2 separate regions of the Homo sapiens genome follow, and region 1 is linked to region 2. Evidence: fine-mapped expression QTL. Tissue or cell type: whole blood. Region 2 holds a variant in brackets; the other region holds the start of a gene. All regions are shown on one strand. Distances are between the middles of the regions.

Region 1 (8,113 bases), 170 kb after region 2:
GCTCGGGCCCAAGCTGCCTGCCCTGCAGGGGTCCAGGGAGGTCCTGATGAGTCCTGCCCCTTCCCTTCCAGAGGGCCTGCCTGGCAGCCAGCAGCAGGGTGTTTGGGGAGCACCTGTTCCCACACAAGGGTCCTTTTAGTCCATTCCAACAGGTGACTCCGAGCAGCCCTGAAGGCTTGGGGAGGGCTCCTGCCTGGCAAGTGGGCCTGGCACGAGTAGAGGGCAGAGGCCCGCCCTGGGTGAGGAACATCATAGCCAGGCGCCGCCGCCGTGCGAGTAGCTGTGCTCCTGGCCGGCGACGAAGCCCCGCAGCAGCTCGGCCTCACCCCCAAACACCAGGCTCTCCACATCCACCTCCAGCTCCTCTGCGCGGGGAGGGGTCCGGTCAGAAGACCTGGCTCGCCCCGAGGGCCACACAACCCCTCAGCCTCGGGGCACTCACCTTGGTCTGAGTCTGAGCGCTCAGAGGAGAGGCCTGAGGAGTCCAGACTGTCCGCCCGCAGCCGCTCCCGCTCGGCCGCCCCTGCCAGCCCCCGGAGCTGCTCCAGCTGCCGCTGCAGGCTCTGCTGCTTGCTGCGCAGCCTCTCCTTGAGCTGTCGGGCCCGCTGCTCCTGATCCTCCAGCTTCTGCGGATCCCAAAGGAGCAAGGGGCTGGGGTCAGCGGCGTGGGGGCTTGGGCTGCACCCCAGCACCACTCAGTACCGGGCCACGGCCACAGGGCCAATGCCCACTCCGGGCAGGTGGCGACTAAATCCAGGCCCCAGAGGGTTGCACCCACATCCTCCAGAAAGCCAGCCCCTTTCCGGCCATGCACACGTCCTGTCAGGGTGCTGCCTAGATTGGGGGTGGGGGGGCACCACAATCTCAAAGGCATTTGGGGCCTAGTCAAGGATAAAGGACTGGAGTGCTGTGGCGTCCAGGGGTGGGAACTGGGAGCAGGGTGCACTGCTGCGTGTACACTCTGGCTCAGGAGCCAGGCATGTGCTGTCATGGGAAACAGGCCCGGTGTTACCAGGTCTCCCCGTTTCTTTTGTTTTTTGTTTTTTTTTTTTGAAACAGAGTCTCGCTCTGTCGCCCAGGCTGGAGTGCAGTGGCACAATCTCGGCTCACCACAACCTCCACCTCTTAAGTTCAAGCAATTCCCTAGTCTCGGCCTCACAAGTAGCTGGGACTACAGGGGCCCGCCACCATGCCCAGCTAATTTTTGTATTTTTAGTGGAGACGGGGTTTCACCATATTGGTCAGGCTGGTCTCAAACTCCTGACCTCAGGTAATCCGCCTGCCTCAGCCTCCTAAAGTGCTGAGATTATAGGTGTGAGCCACCGCGCCCGGCCCCCCATTTCTTTACGAGAAGCTAGCTGGAAAGTCAGATTTTTCATGTCAAATGTCTTTTGAGGGATTGACAGCTAATTTAAATTTTTAGAAAACTAGAGAACAAACAAAGGCTACCAGTCTGTAGCTCCTGGTCACGATCCCTACAAGAGCGAGAGCGTGAAGGCGTTAGCACCCTCCCTCCCATACCCCTACCTCCCGCCAAGCTCTGCCAGCCCTGAAGTTCCAAGGACTGGAAGGCCAAGGGCTCTCCCAGGCGGAGCCCTCAGTGGGCAGAAGCTTACATTCGGTCATTCAACAAGAAGGGGAGAACTGGGCCATGGAGGCGTTTGGACTGGGCGTAGAAAGATAAGAGCTGCCGAGGCAAACACAGGGAGGAAGAAACGTCAAGACACAGCAGAGGGAGCCTGGGAAGAGCACAGAGCATTCAGCTTCTGTGGGGCACAGGGAGAGATGAGGCCAAAAGAGCAGCCTACTGGCAAGTCCTGGGTTATGAAGGGCCTTGAGTTTCACAGGAAGGAAGGGGAGCAGAGGCTTTGTCCTGTCAGGGGCCACTGGTGGGTTTTCAGCAGGAGATGGGCCTGGGTAGATAGGTGTGCTGCAGAGATCATTCTAGAGCAAAGTAGAAGACAGCCTGGTGGAGGCAAAACAGGTAACAGGAAGGCTGGGAGGAGGCCGGTGAATTAATCCAGGAGAGGGGTGATGGAGCCCCAGAGAAGGAGCACTGCCCAGGTCCTGCCCACAGGCCAGCCAGCCCCTGAGGGGCACACATCATCCATCCGAGAACCAGGCCAGGCAAGCTCCGTGTGAGAAACTGGGCCACTACCCAACCAGAGTGTTACTCAGCCACAATGATGGTAATAACAGACGCCGGGCGGCAGTGCAGCTGTTCCCGCAGCTGTGGTTTATTTACTAACAGCGCATAGGTCTTTGTGTGCCACAGCCCCCAGTGCCTAGAATAGGGCCTAGCAGAACCAGTGCTCAGTAAACACTTGTCAGAGGAGATAACGCAAGCCAGGGAACTGGGCATGGGTCCTGAATCTGCCGCCCATCAGCTGTGCAACTTGTTGGCCCTCAGCCTAGCTGTGCCTTCATGTATTCCTCTAGAGGGCAGGAAAAGTCCTGTGGTTTCCAAGGCCACTTCTGACATGGCCAGGGCCACCTGGGCCTTTATTCAGCACATCCACTCCTGTCCACCAGGGGGCACTGAGCTCAGCCCCAGCAGCAGCAGGAGCCCTGGGAGGACCAGTGACTGGCGTCTTCTCAGTCCTTTCCCCTCCTGTCCCTGGAGCTGCCTCCCAGGTGGCACCAGGATAGACTGCCCATAACAGGAGGCCTTGAAGGTGAGAGGGGGAGAGCAAGGACCAACCCTCTACAGTCCCAAGGACCCCCACATACATCCCATCACAGAATTCAACAGCCATCCCCTCCCCTCAAACAGGAGGGAAGGTTAGTCCAGACAGGCTAAGTAACCTGCCCAAGGTCTCACAGCTGTGATCTAAGTGATAACAGCTGTAACAGCAACAGTGAACATTTATAGAGTGAACTCATTTAAGCCTCAACAACCCTCTGAGTTATTGTCTGCTTTTCTTCCCATTTAATGGATCTGGAAAGTAAAAGCTCAGAGAGCTGTCCTAAGTCACACAGTTCTTGAGCTCTGACCTCAGGTCTCGTTCCCCAGTCCCACCAGCCCCTCCATAGCACAGCCCTCCATACACCAGGGCAAGCCAGTCCGGGCGCAGTGGGGGGCCTCACCTGGATGTGCATCCTGGCACGGCGCAGCAGGCTCAGCGTGGTGTACCGGGCACAGTCGGCCCCCAGGGGCATCTGCTGCTTCAGCCGCTCCAGGCACCGCTTCAACTGGGCCCTCCTGTGGGGAAGAGGTCTGGAGGGCAGTGCCAGCCCCACCTTGCCGGCCACAGGAATGGCAGGGGAGGGAAGGCCAGAGGGCAGTGGCCCCTGGGGGCTGGCGCTGTCAGGGCAGGACTGGGACTCACCTGCGCTTCTCCAGTTCATTGTGCACTGACCTGCCAATGCCAGAGAGGATGAGGTGAAGGGGAATCAGCTACTGCCCATGCCCCAATCCCAGGGCCCCCAGTGGCTCAAGAGCCACTACAGATGTCTGCCCCAAACAAGTCCCCTGTGGAGAGCTCATGCTGGCCTCAGACACCAGAGTCCCCTGGCAGGGCGAGGGGAGTCAAAGACACACGGAGCCAAATGCTTAACAGAAGCCTGCCCAGGTGGGTATGAGGGCCCTAACAAGGGCGCCTGCCAGCTGGCCAGAAAGGACCTCCCAGAGGTGACAGCTAACTGCGGAAACAGATGTTTCCCAAGCCGGTACTGGAGGGAGGGGCATTCAAATAGGAGGGAACAGCATATGCAAAGGGCTGGGGAGAGGAGAGAAGAGGAGGAAGCCAGCGGGGGAGGTGAGTGGCCTGATGTGTGGGGTGCGGGAGTGCGAGTGGAAGCGGGACCCCAACTGCTGTTGGCAGTTCCCGGCACATCTAGAGGTGCTCAAGAAATAGTCCTTGAATGAATAGAAAGGTGTGAGTGTGTTTGGAGAGTGGGGAGATGGCAGGAGGGGTCTGAACGCTTCCTGGAGCGGGACACCTGGCCCAAAAGATGCAAGCAACAAGTGGGCAGAGGAGGGCCCGACCAGGGGCGGCGCCCACCCCCACCCCCACTCCCGCCGCCCCCGGCCTCCTCACCGCCCGCTGTCCTGCGCGCCAGGAGCCTGGGGGGGTCGCTTCTTCCTCCTGTGGATGGGGCCTGGACTGCGATGCGGGCACAGGGACGCATAACCATGCTCGGCCTCTGCCAGAGAGAGTCCCCGCCCGCGTCAGGCTGGGGCTGGACCTGGTCCCAGCGGCAGCCCCAGGCACAGCACGGTCAAGGAAAGGCTTTTGGCGCCAGGACCATTTCCCCCACCCGTCCCTGCTCTACCGCCCCGGGACTCCTCTCGAGTTGAGGGCGAGGCGCCCCGGGATTACTGTCCTAGGGCGGTGCATCCTTCAAGCTGGGAGCCAGGTCCAGTCCAGGCCCGTGTCAGCGAGGTCGCCGCCCGGAATTCAGCCAAGGGTCCTTCCTCACCTCTCTCACGGCGCTCCAGGAACTCGGCCGCCTGCAGCAGGACCTGGATGTTGCTGGCCAAGGGTTCCATGTCGGCGACAGCTGGCGGCGGGCCGGCCTAGGGTGCCGGCCGGAGCAAGCGGCTGCAGCACTTTTGTTACAAAGTAACTGACACGGTGCAACAAACACAGGGGCCCGCCCCGCCCCCGGGACGCCCCGCCCGCGGGAACGCCCAGCCCTTGGCTCCGCCCCTCTGGAACCCGCCACGGAGCCGCAGCCCACCCTCCGGCAGCCGCCCCGCCCCGAGTGGTCTCAGACTTTCCAGGGGCAGGTAAGGGCGCTGGCTCCAGGCCTGGCCCTGGAGCGAACCCTCAGGCTAACCGGTGCTGCTTCTTGCCCGCCTCACTCATCCACCCACGCCGGCTCATTGGCGTCTTTGATCTCAGCTTCCAGCCCCGTGCTAGTGACTAGCCCCCAACATAGCACGGCGCTCTGGGGGCCTGGTGGTCCCCTGAAAGCGCCGGGCCCAGCCGCTGCACGTGGGTGCCGCGGGGGCGGGGCCTCCGGCCGCCGCTCGCCCATTCGCACATGGCTTCTCAAGGATCGCTGTTGTCATCCTCGGGGCGGGGTCGGGGAGCCTCTGATGCCCTATTGGCTGGCGCTCTGCCCCGCCCTCTCCCGCCGCTGATCCACACGTTCGGGCGGGAAAAGAAGCAGGTTTCAAATTTGAAAACCCAAGCGATGGGGCGGGGTTGAGAGGGGAGCTGGGCCTCAATGCGCAGGCGCCGGCGGAGGGGCGGCGGACCCGGCTCCTGCCCTCCGGGGTCTGTCCCCAAGCCTGCCTGCCATCTGCCCCCGAAGGCCCCCGTGGGCCCCAGCTTCCTACTGTGTCGAATGGGAATAATATCTCGGCCCCCCTCCTCTTCTGTGAGGAAGCTGTTGTTGCTACGAAAACGTCAGTGGGGTAACAGCTTCCTCAGGCAGGCCATACCCTGGAGGCACGCGAAATGGCCTTTTCCGGGGCCTTGGGCTCTGGTATCCACGCAGTTGGGGTCCTCTCCTGTCACTGATGTCTCAGCTGTGTATGACTCAGGAGGTGACCTCCGTCTCTAAGCCTCAGGAGCCCTGCGACAGCGTTGAAGGATCAGAGCCAATGCCTCTGCGGTGCCCATGGCATGAAGGAGCCGCCCATCTCAAAGGCCAGTGCAACCAGACCGCGGCGTTTGCCTCCCAGGCAGCCCCTGCTTGCCTTACTCAGAGTCCATAAACCCTTCTTGCACCTGACTCTCCTAGCCGGCCGAAGGAGTGGCTGTGATGACTTCTAGCCTCAGCACCAGCAGGTGGGGCCACATCTGGGGACAGGAAGATGAACGCAGCTGTAGCAGGGTGGAGCATTGCTGCCAGCCACGGGCTGAGTCTGTGACTCCAGTAATCCCAAAATAGAGAGGGGAGGGAAGGTGGGAGGGATAGATGCTCTGTAAAGAGACAGTCCTGGTAAACACAAGCACATGTCAGTCAGGCCTCAGTTCCTTGGGAAAAATCTTTTTTTTTTTTTTGAGTCTTGCTCTGTTGCCCAGGCTGAAGCGCAATGGCTCAGTCTCGACTCACTGCAACCTCCGCCTCCCGGGTTCAAGCAATTCTCCTGCCTCAGCCTCCCAAGTAGCTGAGACTACAAGCGCCCACCACCACACCCAGCTAATTTTTGTATTTTTAGTAGAGACGGGGTTTCACCGTGTTGGCCAGGCTGGTCTCGAACTCCTGACCTCAGGTGATCCACCCACCTCAGCCTCCCAAAGTGCTGGGATTACAGGTGTGAGCCACCGTTCCTGGCCGGGAAACATCTTGAAGTTTCGGCCAGGCGCCGAAAAAAAATGAAGTTTCTCTAAGAGTTGCTCACAGCGGAATAACTGCCCTGTCTAGGCAGACGATCCATCTACCCAGCCGCCTGTCCTTAACTCACAAAGTATTTGCTGAGCTCTCACTGGACACCAGGCGCTGTGCTGGGGGCTGGAGGACATACGATAGGCAAAATCATACAGGGTCCCTGCCCTTGCAGAGCTCATAGGCTTGAGAGGGAAAGACACCAATACAGTCGCAGGAAGGCGGAGGTCCAGCTGGACAGGTCCTCACAGGGAGAGACCATGCCCCACAACACATTCTAAGGAACATTTGACCTAATTGGTGAGGCCAGAGAAGGCTTTACTGGGGAAATGGATGAAGAGGTGTTATCTAAGTATAGGAGAGATGAAAGAATTCTAGACAAAGGAACAGCACATGCAAAGGCCCTGGGGCTGAAAGGAGCATGGCAGGGGCGGTGTGGCTTACAGAGAGCAAATAGCCTGGTGCAGGCTGACACTGGAGAGGCTGCAGGGCCCAGAACATGCTGATGGGTTCCCCCAAACTCCCCCCTGCAATCAGCCATCTCTGAAGGAAGGAGCCGCAAGGGTTGTGAATGAATTTCCAATTTTATTTCACTAAAGTCAGCACCATGCAGTGCAGACACGAACCTACTCAGATGTCTGGGCCCTAGGTGGCCTGGCCTCCAGTCTGGGTGGGATAGGGGTGGGGAGGTTCTGAAGGAGGAGAATTTTCAGCAAAGGGAAAGAAGGAAGCATATGTGAGCTGAAGACATGGCCAGGAGGTGGTGGGAGTCGGGGTGGGGCTGCAGAGGGGCTGGAGGGCTCATGTCAAGGAGTTTGGACTTCATCCTAGGAGCTGCAGAGCGGTTTTGAGCCAGGGACAGCATGTGGGCTGGGGTCAAGGCCACCGGCCAGGCCAGACAGGAACAATACCTCCCCAGGAACAGGATGGGACGGGGCATGGGGGGATCCAGCCTGGACCAGCAGGGATCCTGCCCCAAGCCCTTGGATGTCCCCTGGGCCCCTGTGAGAAAATGCTAGAGCTAGTGGCCTCTAGGCACAGGACTGGACAGAGGAGCTGCAGTGCCCCCCCAGCAGTGACCAGCCCAGATCCTCTGCCCTGGAGTCCGCAGGGTCCTGCGCTTCGCCCTGTGACCTCCTGCCTCCACCAGCCCACTGTAACTGGGGTTCTGCTGCCTGTACTTGCAGTGCAGACTCTACCCGGGTCTATGGTCCTCTGGGCTCCAAGGACAGAGTCTGCATCTGTGCCCTGAGTGGAAGGGGAGAAGGGAGACCCCCCCGCCCCAGGCCTTTGTCCCAGTTAGGACCCCTTGAAGAGGGGAGCCAATCCTGGGCTCACCGTCCTCCTCCACTCCATGGACACTCCATGGTGCAGGAGGAGATGGCCCTGCGTTCCCCAGATCCCTTTCCCCTTCTCCCCTGCAAGGAAGAGTCATCGGGGGAGTCGGGAGCCTGGCTCCGACCCTGGAACCCTGCCCAGCCTCCTCCCTGGGCTGCCCGCAGCCTCCCCTCTCCCAGAGAGCAGCACTCCCCAGTCACAGAGCTAACCAGGTCACGCCCCCACTGAAGGCCTCATGCCCCCGCTGAAGGCCCACGCTCCCATGGCCTTCAGGACAAAGTTTGAGCTGGGCAGGGGACATGCCATGGCCTTGCCCACCTCCCTGCCTCTGCCATCTCTGCTCAATGTCACTTGCTCCAGGAGGTTCCCAGGCCTCCCTCCTTCAGCGCATTCTCCCAAGTAGCAGTGGGCCCTGCATCTCTCAGGGTCAGCCTCTTCCTGCAGACTACGACCTCAGCGACAGAGCAAACCAATGCCGAACAGGGGCTTGGCC
Region 2 (8,000 bases):
GTGCAGGGTCCAGGAGCCCCCCTCGGACCCCGCAGCCTTTTGCTTTTGAGAGATCCAGCTGCTCGACCCCTGGCGAGGGAGGGGGAGGACTAGTCCTGTTTGAGAATTGGGAATTTTGACGGGCAGAGGGGTTTTAATTTTAGTTCATCCCAAGTGTCCACCAGTCTACAGAGGAGGAAAAAGAGACGGGCTGTTTCTATGTAGCAGGATCGGCCCAGCTTCGGGAAAATGGAGTTTTCAGAGGCTCATCGAGGCCATTTTTTCATCTCCAGTCGGGGGAACTTTTTCTGCCCATGGAAGTGCAGCAGAAAGGCATAGAGGCCACTAGGCCTTGAAGTGGCTGCCATTTTAAAGAGTCGAGTCAGATGGCCTATTAACTCAGATTAATTGCTGTGCTTTTGGATTCCAGGTTGATGCCGGCCCAGGATGGATCAGACCTGTGAACTACCCAGAAGAAATTGTCTGCTGCCCTTTTCCAATCCAGTGAATTTAGATGCCCCTGAAGACAAGGACAGCCCTTTCGGTAATGGTCAATCCAATTTTTCTGAGCCACTTAATGGGTGTACTATGCAGTTATCGACTGTCAGTGGAACATCCCAAAATGCTTATGGACAAGATTCTCCATCTTGTTACATTCCACTGCGGAGACTACAGGATTTGGCCTCCATGATCAATGTAGAGTATTTAAATGGGTCTGCTGATGGATCAGAATCCTTTCAAGACCCTGAAAAAAGTGATTCAAGAGCTCAGACGCCAATTGTTTGCACTTCCTTGAGTCCTGGTGGTCCTACAGCACTTGCTATGAAACAGGAACCCTCTTGTAATAACTCCCCTGAACTCCAGGTAAAAGTAACAAAGACTATCAAGAATGGCTTTCTGCACTTTGAGAATTTTACTTGTGTGGACGATGCAGATGTAGATTCTGAAATGGACCCAGAACAGCCAGTCACAGAGGATGAGAGTATAGAGGAGATCTTTGAGGAAACTCAGACCAATGCCACCTGCAATTATGAGACTAAATCAGAGAATGGTGTAAAAGTGGCCATGGGAAGTGAACAAGACAGCACACCAGAGAGTAGACACGGTGCAGTCAAATCGCCATTCTTGCCATTAGCTCCTCAGACTGAAACACAGAAAAATAAGCAAAGAAATGAAGTGGACGGCAGCAATGAAAAAGCAGCCCTTCTCCCAGCCCCCTTTTCACTAGGAGACACAAACATTACAATAGAAGAGCAATTAAACTCAATAAATTTATCTTTTCAGGATGATCCAGATTCCAGTACCAGTACATTAGGAAACATGCTAGAATTACCTGGAACTTCATCATCATCTACTTCACAGGAATTGCCATTTGTAAGCAGTTTTTGGTACAACTTAAATATATACATATATGTATATATACAGGCCACTTAAAGGGAAACTTGTAACAAATTTGTTTTTGGTTGCTTATCAGTTCACAGCTGAAATCCTATTGCTAATCATAAGCTTTGGGCAAAATTTTACTTTGATTTTTAAATTTATCTCTGTTGTATGAATTTGGTTGTTTTAAGCTTTTTCCAAATAACTCTTCATTGAGAGTAGGCTAATGCTTTTAAAGGCATTTGATTGAGTTCAGGTTTAATTTCTCAAGTTGGAGGTATACATATATGATTAAAAAAAAAAAAAAAAGATGGGTTTTGGCCTGCCAGCACCATGAGTGCAGGTGAACCAATTTAGTACTTGGAGTCCTGTTGCTATATGTGGCAGATTATTTTTTTACTTGATGACTTGACTCTTACTTCAGGTTGAAGGGCATTTTGAACACAGATTAAAGTGGCTAAGATGAAGTTTTCTTGGACATTGTCAAAATCTAAATTAGGCTAGTTTTTCTGAACTACCTGTTTTGAAGGTATAGCATCCTGTGCTTTTGATAACTGCCACCATTAGCTCTTTTTTTTTTTTTTGAGGTGGAGTCTCACTCTGTTGCCAGGCTGGAGTGCAGTGGTTGATCACTGCAACCTCTGCCTCTTGGGTTCAAGCAATTCTCCTGCCTCACCCTCCCGAGTAGCTGGGATTACTGGTACCCATCACCACGCCCGGCTAATTTTTGTATCACCATTAGCTCTTGAAGTTTTTCTAGTTTTGTTTTGTTTTATTTTATTTTATTTTAACAGAACCCTAACTAAGACAAAGTTTTATATTTATTTATTGTTTAGAGACTGGCCTTGTCATGTTGCCCAGGCTGGCGTCGGGACTCCTGGGCTCATTCGATCCTCCTGCATCAGCTAGAACTACAGTAGTTTCAGATTTTGAAGTGTGTATGTGTATGTGTGATATGTATATATTCCGTGTGTATAGAAATGGAGAGTATCTTATTTGAGTTGTTGTTTTCAGTAATGCTGTCAAGTATTGTTAGAGGGTGATAAATGATAACATTTGTTTTTATTTGAGCTTATGAAGAATTTCTTGACTTTCTAGCTAAATGATCAGTTCACTTCTCTTAGCCTCAATTTTATTGCGTCTAAATTCCAGAAGTTCTTGATTGCTATAAGATTCCTTCAGCTTTAAATATTAATATTTGATATTGATTTTGTTTCTGCCCAAACACATTGTTTGGTCACCGCCGGTAATGTTAGCAAAGAGAATTTTTTTTGGCCAACAAATGTCTCATACCACATTCAGTTTTTATAAGAAAAACTTTTATGGTATGTTGTTATTCTGAGTTCATTAAACATTCGCTTTACCTTATATCCCTGCTGTTCTTTAAAGTTACAGAGGGAGAATGTGGGTGTGTCACTTTTGTTTCTGTTGATTTGTATCTTAATTATGCCTTGGTACTCCTTGGTTTCTTGGCAATTGCAGATTTAAAAAAATTTGCTTTAGTGGTTATCTTGAGTCTGAATTGTCCTACACATTAGGGTGGGTAGGCTGTTTTGAAAACCTATTGGCAGCTCAGACAAATCCTTTTTCTTGGGTTCACGTTGAAATTTATTTTATATATATATCGTGTCTTTGTTTTTGCACATAAATTTAAATCTGAGAATGGAGATAGATGTTTCTCTAGAAGCATACAAATAGAATTGTAAACCTGTTTCTCGTCAAAGAGATGTTAGTGGAGTATTGGTTCTATTAAAAAAAAAATGAAGGCTGAGTGTGGTGGCTCACACCTGTAGTCCCAGCACTTTGGGAGGCTGAGGTGGACAGATCACCTGAGGTCAGGAGTTTGAGACCAGTCTGGCCAACATGGTGAAACTCCGTCTCTACAAAAATTAGCCGGGCGTGATGGTGGGCAACTGTAATCCCAGCTACTCGAGAGGCTGAGGCAGGAGAATCGCTTGAACCCAGGAGGCAGAGGTTGCAGTGAGCCAAGATTGCGCCATTGCACTCCATACTGGGAAATAAGAGTGAAACTCTGTCTCAAAAAAAAAAACAA[C/A]AAAAAAACAAACAAACAAACAAACAAAAAACTGAAAATATTGGAGCCTTTAGATAGTAGGTTACATGTCTAAAATGGGAGTTAGCAAATGTATAAATGTAGAAGTTTTTTTTTCAGGGAGAAATTGAAATTGCTCAAAGACTTTATCACCTTGAAGAAGCAAGTATGTAGTTTATTTATTTTTTTGAGACACAGTCATGCTGTCACCCAGGCTGGAGTGTAGTGGCGCGATCTCAGCTCACTTCAACCACCTCCTCCTGGGTTCAAGCGATTCTCCCACCTCAGCCTCCCGAGTAGCTGGGACTACAGGTGTGCACCACCATGCCTGACTACTTTTTGTATTTTTATTAGAGACGAGGTTTCACCATGTGGGCCAGGCTGGTCTTGAACTCCTGACCTCAGGTGATCCGCCCACCTTGGCCTCCCAAAGTGCTGGGATTACAGGCGTGAGCCACCGTACCCATCCCCTAATTTATTATTTTAGGAATTTGGTTCAAAGTTGTGATTGAAATCTATTGCCTTTATTTTTGCCTTTGATATTTTTAAACTGAAGACATTTTTTTTTTTGAGACGAAGTTTCACTCTTGTTGCCCAGGCTGGAGTGCAATGGCATGATCTCGGCTCACTGCAATCTCCGCCTTCTGGGTTCAAGCAGTTCTCCTGCCTCAGCCTTCTGAGTAGCTGGGATTACAGGTGCGCACCACCACCCCAGCTAATTTTTGTATTTTTAGTAGAGATGGGGTTTTACCATGTTGGCCCAGCTGGTCTCGAACTCCTGACCTCAGGTGATCCACCCGCCTCAGCCTCCCAAAGTGCTGGGATTACAGGTGTGAGCCACGGAGCCCGGCCTCAGACTGAGGACTTAAAAAGTGAGGTCAGGGTGGGCATGGTGGCTCACGCCTGTAATCCCAGCACTTTGGGAGGCTGAGGCGGGTGGATCACCTGAGATGAGGATTTCAAGACCAGCCTGGCCAACATGGCAAAACCCCGTCTCTACTAAAAATACAAAAAATTAGCTAGGCATGGTGGCAGGAGCCTGTAATCTCAGCTATTTGGGAGGCTGAGGCAGGAGAATCACTTGAACCCGGGAGGCTGAGGTTGCAGTGAGCTGAGATCGCCCCATTGCACTCTAGCCTGGGCAACAAGAGCGAAACTCCCTCTCAAGAAAAAAAAAAACCATCCTGGCCGACATGGTGAAACCCCGTCTCTACTAAAAATACAAAAATTAGCTGGGCGTGGTGGCAGGCTCGGGAGGTTGAGGCAGGAGAATCACTTGAACCCGGGAGGCGGAGGTTGCAGTGAGCCGAGATTGTGCCACTGCACTCCAGCCTTGAGACAGAGGGAGACTCCATCTCAAAAAAAAAAAAAAAAAGCGGTCAATCTTAGAATGCAAAGTTAGGTAAGCAATACAGCTTGAGAAAAGTGTAATTAAAAATAACTTTTCTATGTAGTCATGTGATATTAATGTATTCAACTTGTTCACAGTTGATTTAAGTTATTGATATAGTAGGTATTGTTACTATGCTGGGAATTTTAGAAAATCCTTAGCAAATTGCTATTTGTCTCTTTTTGTCTGTAATTTTGGCTGGGCTTGGTGGCTAACACCTGTAATTCTAGCAAGTTGGGAAGCCGAGACAAAAGGATTGCTTGGGGCCCAGAGTTTGAAACTAGACTGGGCAACATAGTGAGATCCTGTCTCTACACTCAGTTGGTTGTGGTGGTATGCCTGTAGTCCCAGCTACTCAGGAGGCTGAGGCAGTAGTAGGATCACTTGAGGCCAGAAGTTTGAGACTGCAGTGAGCCATGATCATGCCACTGCATTCCAGCCTAGGCAACAGAGCAAGATCCTGTCAAAAAAAAAAAAAAAGGAGAAAATTCTCTTGGCAGTGGGTAAGAGTAGTTATTAGGGTTGTAGATTTCCTGTCTGGAATTAGAGAAAGAAGGGTCATATTTTCTGTTATTTTGTGTATCTACCTCTAAGTGGACTGTTTGCCTCTTGTCACGAATTAGTAGCCTCTTCAGTTTACCATCATGTGCTCTTATTTTCTCTGCATACAGTGAAGTGATTGTCATTACAATTTATAATCCTGACCTGGTACTTTTATATTTAATTGGGCTGATATTTTCTAATTCTTCCCAGTGTACAAAGGTTTTATGCTTTGTTGTTGTTGTTGAGACAGGCTAGGTGCTTTGGATGTGGAGAATTAAATGAGCATGGCATTTTCAGAGGATACTTGTTGGAGATTGCTTGGGTAGGATGGATGTAGTCAGGTAATGGGGCCTAGAAATTCAGACTGAAGCATTTGGTATTGATGTGATGGGAACTGGCAGCCCTTGAGAGATTTTAGCTGAGAAGTGATGTAAAATCTGTTTGGAAGACTTTGAGTAGAGGAGATTAGAGGCAAGGTTAGGATGTAGGGTATGTTGCAATAGTAATTAAGACTTAAGAATCGGCCCAGTGGCATGTACCTGTAGTCCTAGCTACTCTGGAGGCCGAGGCAGGAGGATCACTTGAGGCTGCAATTAGCTGTGATTGTGCCTGTGAATAGCCACTGCACTCCAACCTAGGCAATATAATGAGATTCTGTCTCTTAAAAAAAAAATGAGCACAGTGAGTACTCTAAAGAAAGGGGGTAAATCTAAAAGATTATTTCAAAGGGAGAAAATTGGCAGCTTTTTGGGGGCTACCTGATCTGGAGGCAGATTGGAGTCTGGATTTGAGGAATGGAGAGAGATGAGGCAGATGATGTCTAAGGCTTATAGTTTTGCTGCCTGAGACAAAAATGATTCCTCAGAGGTTCCTTCCTCTTCTCTACCCATCATCCCACAATTTTCTACTCCCTCCTTAGCTATCTTGGAAGAAAATTGATCTCTTCACACCTGAGGTTCTGCTCTCTCTCCGATTCCCTCCTGGCTGGGTGACCTTTTTTGTTTGTTTTTGTTTTTGTTTTGAGACAGAGTCTCACTCTGTCACCCAGGCTGGAGTGCAGTGGGGCGATCTCGGCTCACTGCAACCTCTGCCTCCCAGGTTCAAGCAATTCTCTGCCTCAGCCTCTGGAGTAGCTGGGATTACAGGCGCCCGCCACCGCAACCAGCTAATTTTTATATTTTTAGTAGAGACGGGGTTTCACCATCTTGGCCAGGCTGGTCTTGAACTCCTGACCTCGTGATCCACCCGCCTTGGCCTCCCAAAGTGCTGGGATTACAGGCGTGAGCCACCGCGCGCAGCCTTTTTTTTTTTTTTTTTTTTTTTTTTTTTAAGATGAATTCTTGCTCTGTTGCCCAGGCTGGAGTGCAGTGGTGTGACCTTAGCCCACGGCAACCTCCATCTCCTGGGTTCAAGAGATTCTTGTGCCTCAGCCTCCCAAGTAGCTGGGATTGCAGGCGCCCTCCACCATGCTTGGCTAATTTTTGTATTTTTAGCAGAGAGAGGTTTCACCATGTTGGCCAGGCTGGTCTCGAACCCCTAACCTCAAGTGATCCACCTGCTTCAGTCTTTCAAAGTGCTGGAATTACAGGTGTGAGCCACCACGACCTGCATACCACTTCTCAAACAGTCCTTTTTTGCGTCCTTGTTCTCTTTTTCTTCCTCTTTCTCTGCAGTCTCATTCACTTTCATTGATTCTGCTGCTACTCCACTCTATGAAACTCTCTTCTGAACTGACTTCAAACCAACAAATTCTACTTGTCAACTAAGCTGCTCCTCTACCTTGTGTTATATTCACCTAAAATGTAATATTATTTCCTTTTTTATTTTTCCTTTGGACAGGGTCTTTCTCTGTCACCCAGGCTGTAGTGCAGTGGTGCCATCTCGGCTCACTGCAACCTCTGCCTTCTGGGTTCAAGTGATTCTCCTGCCTCAGCCTCCTAAGTAGCTGGGACTACAGGCGCCCACCACCATGCCTGGCTAATTTTTGTATTTTTAGTAGAGACAGGGTTTTGCCATGTTGGCCATGCTGGTCTCAAACTCCTGACCTCAAGTGATACGCCTGCCTCTGCTTCCCAAAGTGCTGGGATTACAGGCATGAGCCACTGCGCCCAGCCTATTATTTTCATTTTGAACCCATCTCTTTTATTGCCAAACACGCATTTACTTCTGTGTTCATGATGACATCATTATCCTATTCATCTCAAAGCTGGAAACCTTGCAGTCAATCATTTAAATGATTAAAATACATTTGAGTACCTCTTGAGCCAGGCACTGCCAGTATAATAAAAAATAAAAAAATTAAAAAAAGGAAAGAGATAGTTTGCTTTTAAGGAACTTCACTGTGTGGCAAAAACTAGTGTAAACAATGACAATACAGAATACTAAGTGGTCTGGTAGGTGTTATGTATGCAGTACTTTGGGAGTGTGGAGGAAGGCATGCCTAGAATAATCAGGGAGGACTTCACAGAGTGGTTATTTATAGTTTAAGCAGAGACATACCAGTAAGAGGGAATAGCATATGCAAGTGGCCAGAAATCCTTGGCTAGCTATCTGGGAGGAGTGGGGTTGTCAGGAGATAAAGGTATAAAGATAGGCTTATATGCCGTGCTGTATAGTTGAATGTTTTTACTATTACAAAATTTTACAGATGCCCTCAGT

What was found. PIP is the estimated chance that this variant, and not a neighbour inherited with it, causes the effect.
Region 1: it holds the start of MXD3, and the variant in region 2 is fine-mapped to the expression of MXD3 in whole blood (TOPMed, PIP above 0.99).

Annotation. Positions count from the first base shown.
Region 1 is chr5:177,307,339-177,315,451 of GRCh38, forward strand. MXD3 (MAX dimerization protein 3) reads right to left here and starts at 4,560. Exons shown (of 6, transcript NM_031300.4): 1 at 4,423-4,560; 2 at 4,041-4,146; 3 at 3,330-3,359; 4 at 3,088-3,202; 5 at 443-626; 6 at 1-365. The coding sequence starts at 4,492. The coding sequence ends at 250. RefSeq lists enhancers at 105-184, 2,225-2,294, 2,365-2,414, 2,661-3,527, 3,785-3,984 and 1 more and silencers at 4,535-4,714, 4,845-5,414.
Region 2 is chr5:177,134,678-177,142,677 of GRCh38, forward strand. It overlaps NSD1 (nuclear receptor binding SET domain protein 1), which reads left to right. Exons shown (of 23, transcript NM_022455.5): 2 at 410-1,353. The coding sequence starts at 427. Among named protein-coding and RNA genes, the nearest start is that of NSD1, 4.9 kb to the left of the region's middle. RefSeq lists an enhancer at 1-298. The variant C/A (reference allele first, on the strand shown) is at 3,413.